Regions from separate parts of the Homo sapiens genome. Here region 2 is linked to region 1. Evidence: fine-mapped expression QTL. Tissue or cell type: whole blood. Region 1 holds a variant in brackets; the other region holds the start of a gene. All regions are shown on one strand. Distances are from middle to middle.

Region 1 (8,108 bases):
AAGTCAGAAATGTGAGCTCTATTCCTTTTTGTTGTTGCTATTTGTTTGTTTTCTAATGACTTTGTTAATCATTGATAATTTAATGACTTTATTGATAATTTACATACAATGCCATTATTCACCCATTGAAGGTGTACAAATTCAATGTGAGATTTTTCTGGTCTATTATGTTACTGATTCTTAAAATTGTGGTAAAATATATGCAGTATAAAATGTGCCATTTATGCAGTTTTAAAAGGGTATAATTTAATGCTATTAACTACATTCACAATGTTGTACAACCATCACTACTATCTACTTCCAAAACTTTTGATCACCTTAAACAAAAATTCTATAACCATTAAACAATAACTTGCCACTTTTCCCTCTCTCTGGCTCCTGGTAAGCACAATTCTATTTTCTGTGTCTATGAATTTACCTATTCCAGGCATTATGTATAAGTTTAATCATATAACACTTGTCCTTCTGTGTCTGTCTTATTTCACTTAGCATAGTGTTTACCAGATTCATTAATGTTGTAGCATGTATCAGAACTTTATTGCTTTTATGGCTAAATATTATTCCATTGTATGTATATACTACCTCTTATTTATCTAATTTTCTGTTGGTAAACACTTGGATTGTTTCTACTTTTAGCTATTGTAAGTAATGCTGCAATAAGCATTTGCCTGAAAATATGTTTGTTTCTGTTTTTGAATTATTTGGGGCATATACCTAGGAGTCGAATTGCTGGGTAATATGCTAAGTCTATGCTTATTAAGGAGGTGCCAAGCTGTTTCCCACAGCATCTGTACCATTTTACTTTTCTGCTAGCAATGTACAAGGGTTCCAATTTCTCCACATCCATGCCAACACTTGCTATTTTCTGTCTCCTTTAATTATAGCTATCCTAGTAGGGGTGAAGTGATGTCTCATCGTGGCTTTGATTTGCATTCCCCTAATGACCAATGATGTTAAGCATCTCTTCATGTGCTTATGGCCATTTATATATATATTCTTTGGAGAAATTTCTATTCAAGTCATTTGCCCAGTTTTTTAATTGAGTCATTTTTTTTATTAAGTTGTAGGAGCTTTTATGTTCTGGGTATTAAATAGGGTCATTCTTGACTTAGACTTCTTTATTTTCTTACCTCAAAATAATTATTGGGTTTCATGGATTCTAGTTCCTTGAAATCATTTCGGTCTCTCCTTTTTCTTCATCCTATGGCTTCAGAAGTCAATTACCTCTCCCTTGGATTAACATAGAAATACAGTAACTTTTTTTTTTTTTTTTGAGATGGAGTTTCGCTCTTGTTGCCCAGGCTGGAGTGCAACAGCATGCTCTCAGCTCACTGCAACCTCTGCCTCCCGGGTTCAAGCGATTCTCCTGCCTCAGCCTCCCAAATAGCTGGGATTACAGGCACCTGCCACCACGCACAGCTAATTTTTGTATTTTTAGTAAAGACAGGGTTTCACCATGTTGGCCAGTCTGGTCACGAACTCCTGACCTCAGGTGATCCACCCACCTTGGCCTCCCAAAGTGCTGGGATTACAGGTGTGAGCCATCATGCCCGGCCTACAGTAACTTCTTAACCGGTTTCCCTCCTCTCTATTTTGCTCTCCTTGAATCCACACTCTATAACATTATGGCCCGGACTTTCAGAAGCACATCTGATTATGTCACCTTCCTACCATAAATCATTTAGCACTTCTTATTGTTTTCAGAATAAAATATAAATCAGTAACATAGCATAAAAGATGCTTTATGATCTGGCCCTTCTTTCTCATTTTCTCAGGACACTTTCCTCTTCAAACCTGCACTTCAGCCACACTCAAGTACTGCAGGTGCTTCATGAGACACTTTCACTTGCCTCTATGCTTTGGATGTTTTTCTTGTCTGCCTCGAATTTCTCTACCCCTTCCTAACTCATATTCTTCCTTCAGATCTCACCTTATATAACAATTCTTTCTGAAATCCTTCCCTTATTTCTTTTCGGACTGGGCTAAGTGCCCCTCCTTCGTGCTCTTAAATCTCCCAGTTCCTAACTATGGGTGTAGGCACCTGTTGACTCATCTATCTCCACTACAGGTCTGTTACTGTGAGGAAAGGGAGTGTGTGCTGTTCACCACCACATTTCTTGGACCAACACAGTTCCTGGGACAAAGTAGATGCTCAATAAATATATGCTAGATGAATTATCTCTATATTCAATTTCTATACACTTATCTCCACTACAGATTTACAACACGTTGCTACAAGGAAAACAATGCAATGTAATACAAAGAACAAAATGTTGCCATTCAAGAAGGTGGTATTTAAATATCCAGAAATATAACAACATCCTGTTCCCAAACTCAGCTATCTGATTGACTAAACAGTCATTAGAAAGCACCTCAGCCAACTTCTTAATCATTCCCCATAGTTTTGTGGTAGTTTCAGCCTGTCCCATGAAGTGGAGTTTTGTTTTGATTTTTTAGGGGGAAGAAAGGTTTCTAGTTATGTATAAACTTGTTTTCCATACCTGGCAAGACTGACTGGCTCTGTGTGTTCTATTGCAGGCAGGGGGGAAATAAGGAAATATATTTTTATAGGAAAATAGCAAAGTCACTACAAATGACTTTGTATTTGTAATTCATAGAGTCAGGACAGAAAAATCAATGGCAGGAAAAATTGAATTATTTCTATTTCTCTTCTTTTATATTCATCCTCTTATTAAGATTTTACCTTTTACATTTTCCTTTTTCAGCCAGACCCTCCACTCCCTTTACTCAAGAAGGTTTACATCCTAAGTTAAAAGAGACCAGGTGTCATCTATAAATTCAGGGAACTGTAAGTGCACCTAATCCATAAAAGCCAGAAATATTTAAGCATGATCTAGAGCAGGCAAATGTATACTGGAGTTAATGTAAATGCAATATATGAACATAGTGTTGATCATATTCAAGATCTACCACCATAAACTAATTAGATCCCTGAGACCAACTCAGAGAAGCGGAGCTTTTACTCACGGTTGAGGTCCACAAAGCTTGTTTATACTGGAGCTGACTTTGCTCTTAAATGGTGACATCAGGGCACAGTCCTAGATCTTAGAGTTGTATGCTACAGAGTTGCTACCGGTATTATGTGCTGCTTTCAAATCCTCCTTGTTCAATACCCTTATTAATCAGAAGTAGAGCTAAGTCATGTACAACGATTTTCGGTGGAGAATTCAAGTCCTTGATGGTGAGAATGATCAGAACTAACCCTAGAGTGTAGGACGGGCAAAGAGGCTTCCCTGTCCAGTCTAGAGAGTCCCTTGATCTGTTTTAGGGAAGAATAGCAACAGGTGACACTTCTGACAGTGCTGAGGTCAAGGAGCCCCCCAGGTGGCCTTCCCAAGACAATGTTCTGGGACAGTCACTAGCGCCGACGCAGCACCTCTGGAGAGCCTGTCTTTGATAATGTACCTGCTTCGTGCCGATAGAGGGAGACCGGATTCCACAGCACACACGCCATGCGTCCCTGCTGTCCGGTAGAGGGCAGTAGCGGCCACGCTGCAACCCTGAGAAGTGGCGGGTACCTTAGGATCCTTTCTGATTGCAGACGTGGTCCAGAGCCAAAGCGGCTTGGCTGGGAAGGCTCCGTGAGACGCCGGGGCTTGATTGCTAGGAGGTGAAAAACTTTCGAGAACTCAGAGCAATCCAATGGACAGTCCATGTTCCACATAATTATCAACTCACTTTCCCTGCTCGTGAAATTGCTGTTAATTTTTAACAAGTGATTGGGACTGTCTATATTTAGAGGATTACCTAGTAACCAAAGCTCATGACACATGAGATGGTTAAGTTTTCCTACCAGACCTAACTGTGATATTTCCTGACTTTAATATGTTTTTATGTCAGCCCTCTTAATATTCAGTTTACCTCGGTTTTATCAAATGCTTAGCATTTTTTATGAGGGGGTGGATGAGCGAAAAATAGAAACTCATAAAACTGGAATTTCATTTCTTTTGAAAAATATAACTGAGATCAGTGAAAAAACATTGTCCCATAGAGGGTATGGGAAACTTGGACTCAAAAAACTCGGGTTTGAGACTTGGCTCTGCAAGTGTAGATGTGGCTGTGTGGGGTAACCTCAAGTAAACCACTTTTCCTCAGTTTCCTCTTTCGTAAAATAGGGATAGTAAGACTTGTCTTTTTTCATATATAGGGCTGTATAAAGTTCACATGAAGTACTGCATTTGAAAATTTTCTGTAAATGGGAAATGTTATGCAAATGTAAGATATTGAAGTTC[G/A]CTTTTTATTTTTGAATGTAAAATATTATAATATTTTTGAACTTAAATATAATTTGTAGGAAAAAAGATAAATGTCAATTGTAAAACTATGTAAACAATATTCAAAACTACATAGAATAAATTATCACTGGGCTGAGTGCAGTGGCTCACACCTGTAATTCCAGCATTTTGAGAGGCCAAGACAGGAGAATTGCTTGAGGCCAGGAGTTCAAGACCAGCCTGGTCAACATAGCAAGACACCTATCTCTAATAATAATAATACATTTTAAAAATAAATTATCACTGTTAGTATTTGAACATGCTTTTAGACATCTCTATATGCACCTATATACATGTGTATATAAACAATGTTTTGAAGCTGGAATTGTATTGCACATTCTATTATATCAATGACTTTTTCACTCAGCATTGCAGTAATAATAGTTAACATATATTGATCTTTACGTGTCAGTCATTGTCTAAACCATTTATATATATCTTTAGTGTTACAATAACACTATTGGGTATGTACTTTTATCTCAAAGACAAGGAAACTGAGGCTCAGAGAGGTAAAATGACAGATTTCCTAATTTCCTTAAATTTTAAGAATTCTTACAACTAACATTTTTTTCTTCTTACAGCCTGTCCCACTTTTATCATTTTTATCTCTTTGGCAACCTGTTTGTTAAACAGCAGCTAAATCAATAGGACTGCTGGTTTTAAAATGTCAACTGTCACACCTACACATTTCTGGAGGGAGGAAATCTAGGAATGGGCAGTTTTTAAACAAGCACTCCTAGGAAATTATGTGTACAATCATATTTGAGAACCACAGCTTTGGTTTCAATTCCTAGGTTGGGACTGCTGGATCGATTTTGTGTTTGAGATATAATGCCAAACTGCCCTCCAGAAATATCATACCAATTTACATTCCCACAAACAGCTTGTGACTAATTCAGTCTCTTTTATGTGGGTCTTTGCACTCCAAAATATTACCTTGTAAATGACTTCTTAGTTTGTCATCAGGACAGTAAACTACTTGTTAACCTACAAGTATGTGGGGTGTGTATATTCCAAAGCTGAATTCAAGACTGGGCACTTTTTTTCATTTGTGTTAATAATTTTGAGGTTCTTTGGAACCCCAGAATCTGCATATTTTCTGCAATGTCATACCCTCTCCTCTCTTCATGCCCTGCTCCATTTCTGTTCTCCAAGCCATCATATTCATGGAAGTCAAACTTACTTTTCCAAAATTATACTGCATAAATAAAAGCATAAACTCTGCATCATTAGTTCTTACAAAGGAAAAACAAATTCTATTTCTGTCCACAAGAAGTTAACGAAGATCTACCCCTGTGAACCCCCATTTGACCACCTTGGTTTTATCCCATTCTTAGTGCAGGGTCCTTCTGCTCATTCTCCAAAAAGTCTTGATCCTACCGACTTCTAATCTGTCTGTGTCAAAACTAAAATCCTCTTTTGGCTACTTGAATATTATTCTTTACTGGACCCCAGATCTTACTCTTCAGTTCAGTTGAGCTATAGTAAAATTTCTGGCTTTTTTTTTTTTTTTTTTCTTCATAAAGCAAGAGTCTACTCCTACTGAGATTCTAAATAAACCTTTTTCTCTTTTAGAAAAATTACCTTCCTCCTACCTAGAAAACTGAGTTTTTAAAATTTCTTTGTTCTTGAAACAAAGAGCTATTTTCTCTCTTAAAGGAAACAGAAAGACTTTGTTGCTAATTCATTAACAAGCAACTCTTAACAATTAAGCTATAGACATTTAACAAGTTACACACAGACCTCAGCCTAACAGATCATGTACTCTGGAATATTTAGTAGGAGGGTGAGTCACCTCAGACATAATACAAAGTTTATATTATTCAGTTATGACAATAATTGTTCCTAATTATCTCAGGTTTCAAAAAACTTCAAATCTATGTACAGAGAACAAAGTCGCATAAAATTAGACATGGGTAGGTTATTTGTACTTAATGTTGCTCCAAATGAATAATGAAACTGTTTTCTTCTTCCAATATGTTTAGTCAAGTGAGAGCTCGTATTCTAATACAGACTTCTGAACTAAATCATTATTTAGAATGTTTCATTAAAAATCCTCTGATCTGAAACATTGAGTGAGTATGTAAATGCGACAGGAAAAACAGGGTAATAGGAACAGGAGCCTTGCCGGGCTCCTAAATCTCTTCCTCCCCGTCTCTGAGCATTTATTTCTCTTTGGGGCTGTCACTATGTGGTCAGTAAAGATAATCATTTGAAATTTCAAATATCCATCGAAGACGCCATAGAAGAGACTGAAGAAATAATAGGACCGCATTAATTTGATTTTATAGAGCAGCATTTTATGCAGCGGAGGTTCCCGTGAAACACCGTATATTTATATGTATTTGGTAATTCAAATCATGTGTCAGATTTTGTTAAAGTGAGGACATACATCCACAGGAATGCCGGTGGGTTTTAGGCGAAAAGGCACTATTCTGTGATTTCTAGTACTAGTACTTTTATTTTTCAAAATTTAGCAAAAACCCACTGGCTTAATTCTGACTTGGTCCCAACCTTGAGAACATAGGATTCAAATGAGTACAGAATTGTCTCAGAGACGTGATTAAGTCCTTTTCATATCCATTACATTTTGGACTATAGATCTGTCAGAGCACCTCCCAAACACTGATAAATATCACAACCTCCTTCAGGAACTATAAACTGTATTCTGGTTTCAGAAGAGAAAACCAAAACCTTTTGAGTTATATCCATGTACAGTCTACCCAGAGAAAACAACCCATTGCTCTGCCTATACAAATGAGTAATTTGACTAATTTTCCCCCCTGACTTGGCAGAATCTTTTATTGAACTGATTGAAATGACCAGATGTTTTGGCAGCTTCTGTAGACATAATCTAAGCAACTCGATAATTGACTTAAGTAAACGTATCAGGATGTGGACTGGCAATAGAATTGGGGATTCTCTTCTGTGATGACTTCAAATTCAATTTTAAAAGGCAGGCTGCTTGTGTAATTGAAACGCAGAGAAATTGGCACCATATCATTCATTTACTTTAGTAATTTATAGCCTCTTTAGATCCAAGCATCCTAGCAACTTCGGAAAGTAATGAAGGAAATGCCACAGCATTAGAGATCTATAAAAACTGTCCTCGTGGCTGTCTGCTCAAAGTGAGGTAAAATATTTATCTACGTAAAAATCCCCAAATGGAAAAACTTGAGCAAATATTCACTTGACTCAGATTATCATTTTCTTGATGACATTTTGCATTTTCTTAAGTTTTTGAGTGTTTTGCCTAAGAATATTCAATACCAGAATTTTCCATATCATTTTTTGTTTCTCTATTTTGCTTCTAGCATATTTGCTGTGTTATTATAATTTCTGCTGATATAAAAACATTCTTTATAAATAGCTCACAGAGATCAATTTTCTCTTAAAAGCCTACAATTGTAAGAAATATTTCAAGTTGTGGAATATTTCTTAGAAAGGGAAACAGTCTACTTTTCTTTGCACACATGAAAGCCTGCTAACCATGGCTGAGCACAAGACAGAAAGATACTACAAATGTGAAACCTCAGGCTGGACGGCTCCCTCAGCTCTCTTTTCTTTTTTTCCCCCTATGAGACTGAGGATTCCTCTTGAATTTGTTTAATAAACACGATTTTCAAGTGTCTTTCTTTTCCCTTTTTATCACTTCCTTTTGCCCTCTCTTCATTCTTTTTTTTTTTTTTTAAAAGAAGAAGAAGAAAGAAAAGTTATGAAGTATGCACAGGGCGTATATGTGCAGGCATACAGAGAGAGACACACACACTCATATACACACATGTGTCTACACTTTGACCTAAGTAGATGATTAGC
Region 2 (8,094 bases), 170 kb before region 1:
GGATGAATAATGCAACCAACCAACGAGTCAAGTGCATGAAGTATCATTAGTTCTATAATGCTATAAATCAATAAAGGCATTGTCCCCCCCAATTAAAATATGTTCACCAAATCATCCAGTTTAACTAAAGTCAGAACTTTCTCGTCACTTAAAATGAATTGCCTTAATAATGGAGATATACGTGAAGATCAGCGATCTGGGCATCTACAGATCGTGATCAAAAATATGGTTCAATTAAGCACTATATCATCTCTGTAGCTGCTTCAAATTATATGTCATATTTGCCAGGCTGTCTATCAGCCCATAACGTGGTATTAGGGAAGTCTAAACAAAATCATATGATAAACATTTCTACCTTCAAATGCCAAAGAACTAGAACCTTTCATGATTCCTAGGTGTCCTAGAGGTCACATTTTTTAAAAGTCACATTATTGTGTTCATTACTTCATTTTTATGATGGTCACATAATCTATATGTCATTGATGCTCATAACCTCCTCAAAAAAAAGGAATTTCAAAACTTGAGATATCAGCTGTAGCCTCTTATAAGTTATCACTTAGCAGAAAATAGCATTTAGCAGAAGATAGCCCCAAAAATCTTTCATTAAAGTCTTCACTTTCAAAGTCAGTTACATCTGGGTTCAAATTTTTGTGCTACCACTTGCAAAATTTTGCTCCACCATGACAAATGTGGGCTGTGTGACTCTCTGAGCCATAAATTCCTCACCGAGGAAATAGGAAAAATGATACCTGCTTTATAGGAGTGATAAGCAGTTAACTGATACACTGTATAAAGCATATATATGGCCTAGTACATTACATATAACAATTTCTAAGTAAAGTTTTTCTTTCTTGATAGAATTAAAACATTTATGTTTTTCCTTTTCTGCCTTATATTCCTCCTTCTTATCCAGGGATGGATTTTTCTAATCATCTCTAGGAACTATTTTATTCTAAGGACTAAATATTCTAGTCTAATAACTATTTTACCACAGTGACAAGGTAGGTAATAATACCGACTACAAATAAGAAATCAGAAAATGAAAGATCTGTGAGTCAATGGCAGACAAATTTAAACTACCACCATGAAGGAGACCGGCAACTTCCCATAGTGAAAGAGTGTTAATAAAAAGGATCCTTTCCTCCAACTGAGTCCAAAAATAAATGCTATTTCAAAAGCTACTGGACAAACATTAACTTGTCTCTGAGACTACTTCCTCCTAAAGCAGATGGCACCTGGAAGCACCAGAAGCCTACATTCTAGGTGTGGTATGACTTTACTCTCTTAGCCATGGTGCCTTAAGTTACACAAGAGCAGGCTTTTAAGAGTGCATTTAAAATGTAGTTTACAAGCTATTCAGGGAAAAAGAAAAGTGCACAATCTTTTGCCCTCATCTCAGCTATGTGTGTGTATGTGAATGGAAATGTAACCAATACGACAGCTTGATGTCACATGTATTTGCAGAGATTTTTATAAAAACACAGTAAGACATTTTTAAAATTATTACATTGATTTTACAAAAACAACTGTCATACCACACTGAGTCTACTATTTGGTCCTCCCAAGGTTACAGCTGCAACTCCTATCCGACCCTTCCCCTTCCACACCCATGCCTCCATTTTCCTGTAGGGCATCTCGGCAGGAACACCACCACGAGGTTGTGAAACCACTCTGCTGCCACATTTCCTCATGCCTCACTGCTGAATGCGTGAGAGACACTACATGAAATTGGGCCTTGCCCAGACCTCTTTGTTACATTTGTAAATAAAATCAGATCAAATCACAAAGATATAATTGATTTAGGAGAGCCATGGTGCTATTCAGATAGGAAATATAAACAGAAGAGAAATGCCCTATGGTATCATAGTTTCCTTAAACAACACATCACTAGCTCAGTTTCTCAGAGTGAAAATGCTGTCACATACTCCCAAGGAAAAGAAGAGCTCATCCTTACACAAATTTGCTTTTAACTGTCAAAAGAAAATCCCAGAGAGACGCCCACTGCCTTACAAGTAAATCTAGGATTACAGTACCAAATCTGTTATAAAAACAACAATGAAATAAGTTCCAAGTTGTTTCTTCCTTTGACAAATACCCAAATAACTTCCATAATTTGAATACCAGGTCAAAAAGTTTTATTACAAGCAAAACAAATACTTCAGTCCTACTCATTGTTAGCAAGACACAAACCATATTAAAAAGCAGAACATGTGACTAACAATTAGCATACCTTGGAAGGGAAGGGACTTACTCAAATTTGAAAGGCTAGATAAAATTATGGGAAAATGAGACAAAAGTTCAGACAAAAAATAATCATATGCTAATAATTCATTTTTATACTCTGAAAATTATTCTTTTAAAATTTTAAATATACTTCTCATTTATTTGAACCCCAGAGTAAAAAATTTAGTGAGGGTTATCAAGAGTTCCCAATATTCAATCCCTTCCATCATTTAACCTAGACTTTAAAAAATAAAATTTGTGGATAAAGAAATCCTTTGACTCGAGAAAAGGAGAAACTCTTTTTCAGCATTAAACACAAAGACAGTATCTGATGAAAACAGTATATTCACCTATCCAAGTTCTCATAGGTAAACTTATAAAAGATGTTTAATTGCACATGTGAGTGGCAGTGATAATATGCAGCAACAAACTTCAAACTTCATCAAGAGATTTTTGTGATACTCAAAGGTATTACATCGCTAACTCTGAAAGAAAAAGAAAAGCCAGAATAAAGCCCCCTAAAATTTGCAACAGTACAACAGAATGAATGAAACATTGGTTCTGTTTTCACAAACTGGTTAAGACATCTTTCTTCACCACAGACACTAAACTGAGAGCTGCTTCATCAGGAGGCATCCTCTAAAAACTTCAATTATGAAGTTACTAATACTACCAGAGATTCAAAAACCAAGAGAGATTTGGGGGAAAGGGGGCATGAGATACAAGATCAGAGACAAGGGTAAAGATCAAAGCCACAAAATAACCAATCTGTACTTAATCGGAATTTTTCATACCCATGCATAAGGCAAACAAAGCAGGCAGGCAGGCAGGCACGCACACACACACACACACACACACACACACCACATTCCAAGAAAAAGAGGAAGAAAAATCTATTAGATACAAATTCAGATCAAATCTATTTGATACAAATCAGATACAGGAAGGGGTAGTAGTTCATTATGAGTGTCTACTTGAAATTCCTGAAAGGCTACTACAAAACCTGTCTAACACCTTCTCCTCCTGGCGTTCTAACAAGTCCTTTAAAATGCATTTTACAAGTTCAGGGCAAGTTGTGGAATGAGGAGTGCTATATACAACTCAAAACCTGCTCCCTTGAGCTCCAAACCTTCCCCCAGAAAACAGAAAGTCTTATTGGAAAAAAGACCGAAATGCAGAGAAGAAAAAGGGGTGCGGGTGGGGGTAGGGAGTGGACAGGACAAAGGAACTGTGAATTCCATAATCACCTGAACTTCTCTTCCCTTTCTTCCTCTTCACAGTCAGTCACCTGGATTATAACTTCAGACTCCAACCAGAAGACACTGTCATCCCCTAAAGTGCTACTCTCACTTTCAGTCTCCATCTTGTACTTAAAAAACAAAAAAAACTAAACCTCCAGGCATGGAATAAAAAGCACCAACATTCAGGTTGTTCAGCTCTACTCATGTATACTCAGATGTGTGTCTGGTGCCCTAGTGACAGGTACTGGTGCTGGTTTAATTACAGTCAGGGTACAGACAGGAAATCACAGGCAGCACAGTCACTGCGTCTGACTGCCATACTGGTGACACCTAGACCCTCCCACTGCCTTAGGCTGCGTGACCTACATAACCAAAAGCAGAATCTAAATGAAGGTGATTTTTTACTAATTATTCTGTAATAATGACTCTTCTCAAAGTTTCCACTTAATAAGTTAAAAATAGGTATTTTCAAAATGCAGGCTTTATTTGTATCCTTTTTTGATCTCGGACTCCAGAAAGGTAAATAGAAAACTAGAAAGAATAACACCATCCACTGGCCAAGCACATGAGAAGCACAGTTATAGATCTCACAGTTAAGGAGGCTCACAATAAGTAGAGAAGATAAGTATGCTCTAGGGACCTGCCTAGGTTCATGCCTTCCAATATTACACCCATCTTTCCTTCCTCTCAGTAAGGACTGCCATATGCATCTCTGCTCAAGTATCCAGAGTGAGACATAAAAGCTGGGCTTGTCCACAGTCCTTGAAAGAAAAAAGTTTAAGTGTCCCAAGTTCAAAGATGCTGACAATCACATCAAATAAAAGCATGCAAAGTTTTACACATTTAAACTGCAAACAGTCATGGTGGCAATAAAATGACTTGCTGGGAAATGAGTGAAAGGTATAGCATCTATGACTGTCAACAACACAACTGTTACTTAGAAAAGAGCCATGTTGACAGAAACTACTGACCTGCTGGATATTCATGGCTATTTGTCTTTTACCAAGCAGCAACAAACTGCAAAGCCCTGACTTTCCACTGTATCTGATTTAATCAAAAATTAAGAAGACATCTACTGAAGTCTTCTTGAATTTTCATATTTGAAAAATAAAGAGCCAAGCACAGTGGCTCACGCCTGTAATCCCAACACTTTGAGAGGCTGAGGTGGATGCATCACTTGAGCTCAAGAGTTCAAGACCAACCTGGGCAACTTAGCGAGACCTCATCTTTATGGGGGGGGGGGGGGGGGGGCGGGAAACAGCCAAGTGTGGTGGTGCACCCTGTAGTCCCAGCTACTCAACAGGCTGAGGTGGGAGGATCGCCTGAGCCTGGGAGTTCAAGGCTGTTGTGAGCCATAATCACGCCACTGCACTCCAGCCTGGGCAACACAGCAAGACCCTGTCTCAAAAAAAAAAAAAAAAAAATATATATATATGCAGGTCCCTAGAGCATATAATATATATATTATATATAATATATATATATTATATATAATATATATATATTATATAATATATGTTATATATAATATATAATATATGTTATATAATATATATAATATATGTTATATAATACATATACAATATATATTATATATAATATATAATATATATTATATAATATATAATATATATTATATATTATATATTATATATAATATATATTATATAATACATATAATACATATATAAATTTTAAAAACTTTTCAAAAAAAATTTTTTAAACCAAAAACAACAGAACAACATTATAAGCAAAGTCAAAATGCAAACAAGTTGAGAAAAAAATATTTGAAACATATCACAAAGGGTTAATTTATTTAATATATAAAAAGTTCTTAAAAACTTCTAAGACCCAAGAGCTCAAAAGATAAATAGGCAAAGAGCAAAAATATAATACTCAGAGATAAACATAAAAGAAACTTAAAAGATGTTAAAAGTAACTTCACTGATAACAGAAATGTAAAACAATACATAATAAGATGACTTTTAAAAAATCTATCACATAGGCAAAGCTTTTAAAAGGTTTTAACAAACTGAAAGAGGACATGGGAAAAGAAACATGCCTGTCAGTGGGAGTTTAAACTGGTACAACCTGTGTTCAGGGCAATTTAGCAAAATCTACCAAAATTCAAAATGCACATCTTTTTGGCCCAGCAATTTCTCTTTTAGGAAATTATCTCACTTTCACAAGTAGAAGTAAGAGGCAAACAGGAACATTCATTCTGGTAGACATTATAGTAGCAAAATAGGATAGCAAAAACAACCTAACTTCCTGAGGAATAGAAAACTAGGCAAATTACAGAATACCCATAGAATGGAATGCTACACAGTGAGTATATGAGAAAACAAGGCAGCCCTACAGGTCACAATACGGAACAAAGCCTAAGGAATACTGTTAAGGCAAAGAAGAAAGGGGTAAAAGTATAGGGCAGTATGTGCAGTATGCTATGCTGCCATCTGTGTTTTCAATGAGGAGTTAGGAGAAACAAATGCAGACTATCTATGGAAGAAGAGGATCAGTACTAGTACCAGTAGTTGTCTCCACGGAGGAAAACAGACAGCTGGAGAAGAGGAATAAAAGAAAGACACGCTTGAACCCGGGAGGTGGAGATTGTTGCAGTGAGCCGAGATCACGCCATTGCACTCCAGCCTGGGCAACAAGAGTGAAACTCCGTCTCAAAAAAAAAAGAAGAAAGAAAGATAGTTTTTCACTATGTCATGCACATATAATCCTTACCAAAATATTAACTAATTTTAAATAGAATCTTTCATGACCTTCAGTAAAGAATTGGATTTTTAAATATTATTTCATTAAGAATCTAGTTCTTTTTTTTCTAAACAACTCTAACTCCTTCAAAGTGTTGTTTTTTTGTGGGGGGGGGGGTTGTTTTGTTTTGTTTTGTTTGTTTGTTGAAACAGGGTCTTGTTCTGTCACCTAGGCTGGAGTGCAGTGGCACGATCTCGACTCACTGCAACCTCCACCTCCCAGTTCAGGCAATCCTCCTGCCTCAGCCTCCCAAGCAGCTGGGATTATAAGTGTGTGCCACGACACCTGCTAATTTTTGTTGTTGTTGTTGTATTTTTAGTAGAGATGGGGTTTCACCATGTTGGCCAGGCTGGTCTCGAACTCCTGATCTCAAGTGATCTGCCTGCCTCTGCCTCCCAAAGTGCTGGGATTACAGGTATGAGCTACTGTGCCCGGCCTCAAAGCGTTTTCATGAATCCTATTCACCTTTTCTTTTAATCATTCTTTTGTTCTTTCATTATGATGGTTGATTTCCCTCACTTCGAGCCTTTCAAAAGTGAAAACGTGAACTGTGAGTGGTATTTTTACACAGAATACTGAAGGACAGTTAAATGTGCACATCTTCCGAGGCTTGTTCTGTTTTGACTCTGCCATCACAAGTTTTTTAAAAATGTTTTTCCTGCCTCAGCTTCCCGAGTAGCTGGGATTACAGGCACCCGCCACCACACCCGCCTAATTTTTTATTTTTAGTAGAGAAGAGGTTTCACCATGTTGGCCAGGGTGGTCACAAACTCCTGACCTCAAGTGATCCACCCGCCTCGGCTGGAGGTTGCTGTGAGCCGAGATCACGCCATTGCGCTCCAGCCTGGAAGACAAGAGCGAACCTCCGTCTCAAAAAAAAAGGAAAAAAAGTTTTTAAATTCAAAACCTACATGTGTTTCTGTTTTCTGTTCCCTTCTCCAGTAGTAAATGAAAATCCAGCGGAATCAACAGGTGATGGTTAACAGCGGGGGCAGGGATGGAACACAGCCGAGTCCATCACTCTGGCTACCAGTGTGTGAGAGAGACTAGATACTGCTGAAGACCACAAGGTGGTTTTAACTCCTTTTCTTCCTGATTTGTTTAAACCCTGATCAGCCTTCACTTTCCCAACAAGCTTTTATGGAGCTGAAGTCTTTGACTGAAACCACAGGAGTCACCAGCAGTAATTTCGAACTAGCTGGTTCTCATCTTCTACCTCCAAGAGGTAGGGAACCTGAGGGGAAGGGAAATAGCTAATCCCACAGCAGCAAAGAGAGAAGCATTCTTACAGCAACAATTTAAACACTGCAAGTCAGAATGAATTTTTTCGAAGAGAAACATTGTTAAAAGTGCTGACTTTCCTAGTAGCAGTGGTAAGTAGTAATAATCACAGCAACAGAGTTGGCCCACAGGTTCCGTATGCATGGGTTCTGCATCCATGAATTCAACCTCTTGGTTGAATCAAAAATACTCAGGGAAAAAAGAGGGATGGTCCTATCTGTATTGAACATGTACAGGCTTCTTCTTGTCATTATTCCCTAAACAATACTGTATGCCAACTATTTACATAACATTTACATTGATAGTTATTATAAGTGATCTAGAGATGATTTAAAGTATGAGAAGATGTGCATAGGTAATACGTAAATACTACAACATTTTATATAAGTGACTTGAGTATCTACAGATGTTGGTATCCACAGGGTGTCCTGGAAACGATTTCCCCATGGATACCAACTGATGACTGCATATGCTGAGCACTGACTCTATATGCCAAGCATTGGATTAAGGCCCAAACATAACGAATTATATAATTCTCCCAACCACCTCATGAGGCAGGAGCCATCATATTACAGGTGAAGAA

What was found. PIP is the estimated chance that this variant, and not a neighbour inherited with it, causes the effect.
Region 2: it holds the start of ARHGAP32, and the variant in region 1 is fine-mapped to the expression of ARHGAP32 in whole blood (INTERVAL, PIP 0.93).

Annotation. Positions count from the first base shown.
Region 1 is chr11:129,360,839-129,368,946 of GRCh38, forward strand. No RefSeq gene overlaps it. Among named protein-coding and RNA genes, the nearest start is that of BARX2, 11 kb to the right of the region's middle. The variant G/A (reference allele first, on the strand shown) is at 4,254.
Region 2 is chr11:129,188,613-129,196,706 of GRCh38, forward strand. ARHGAP32 (Rho GTPase activating protein 32) reads right to left here and starts at 3,713. Exons shown (of 23, transcript NM_001378024.1): 1 at 3,471-3,713. The coding sequence starts at 3,586.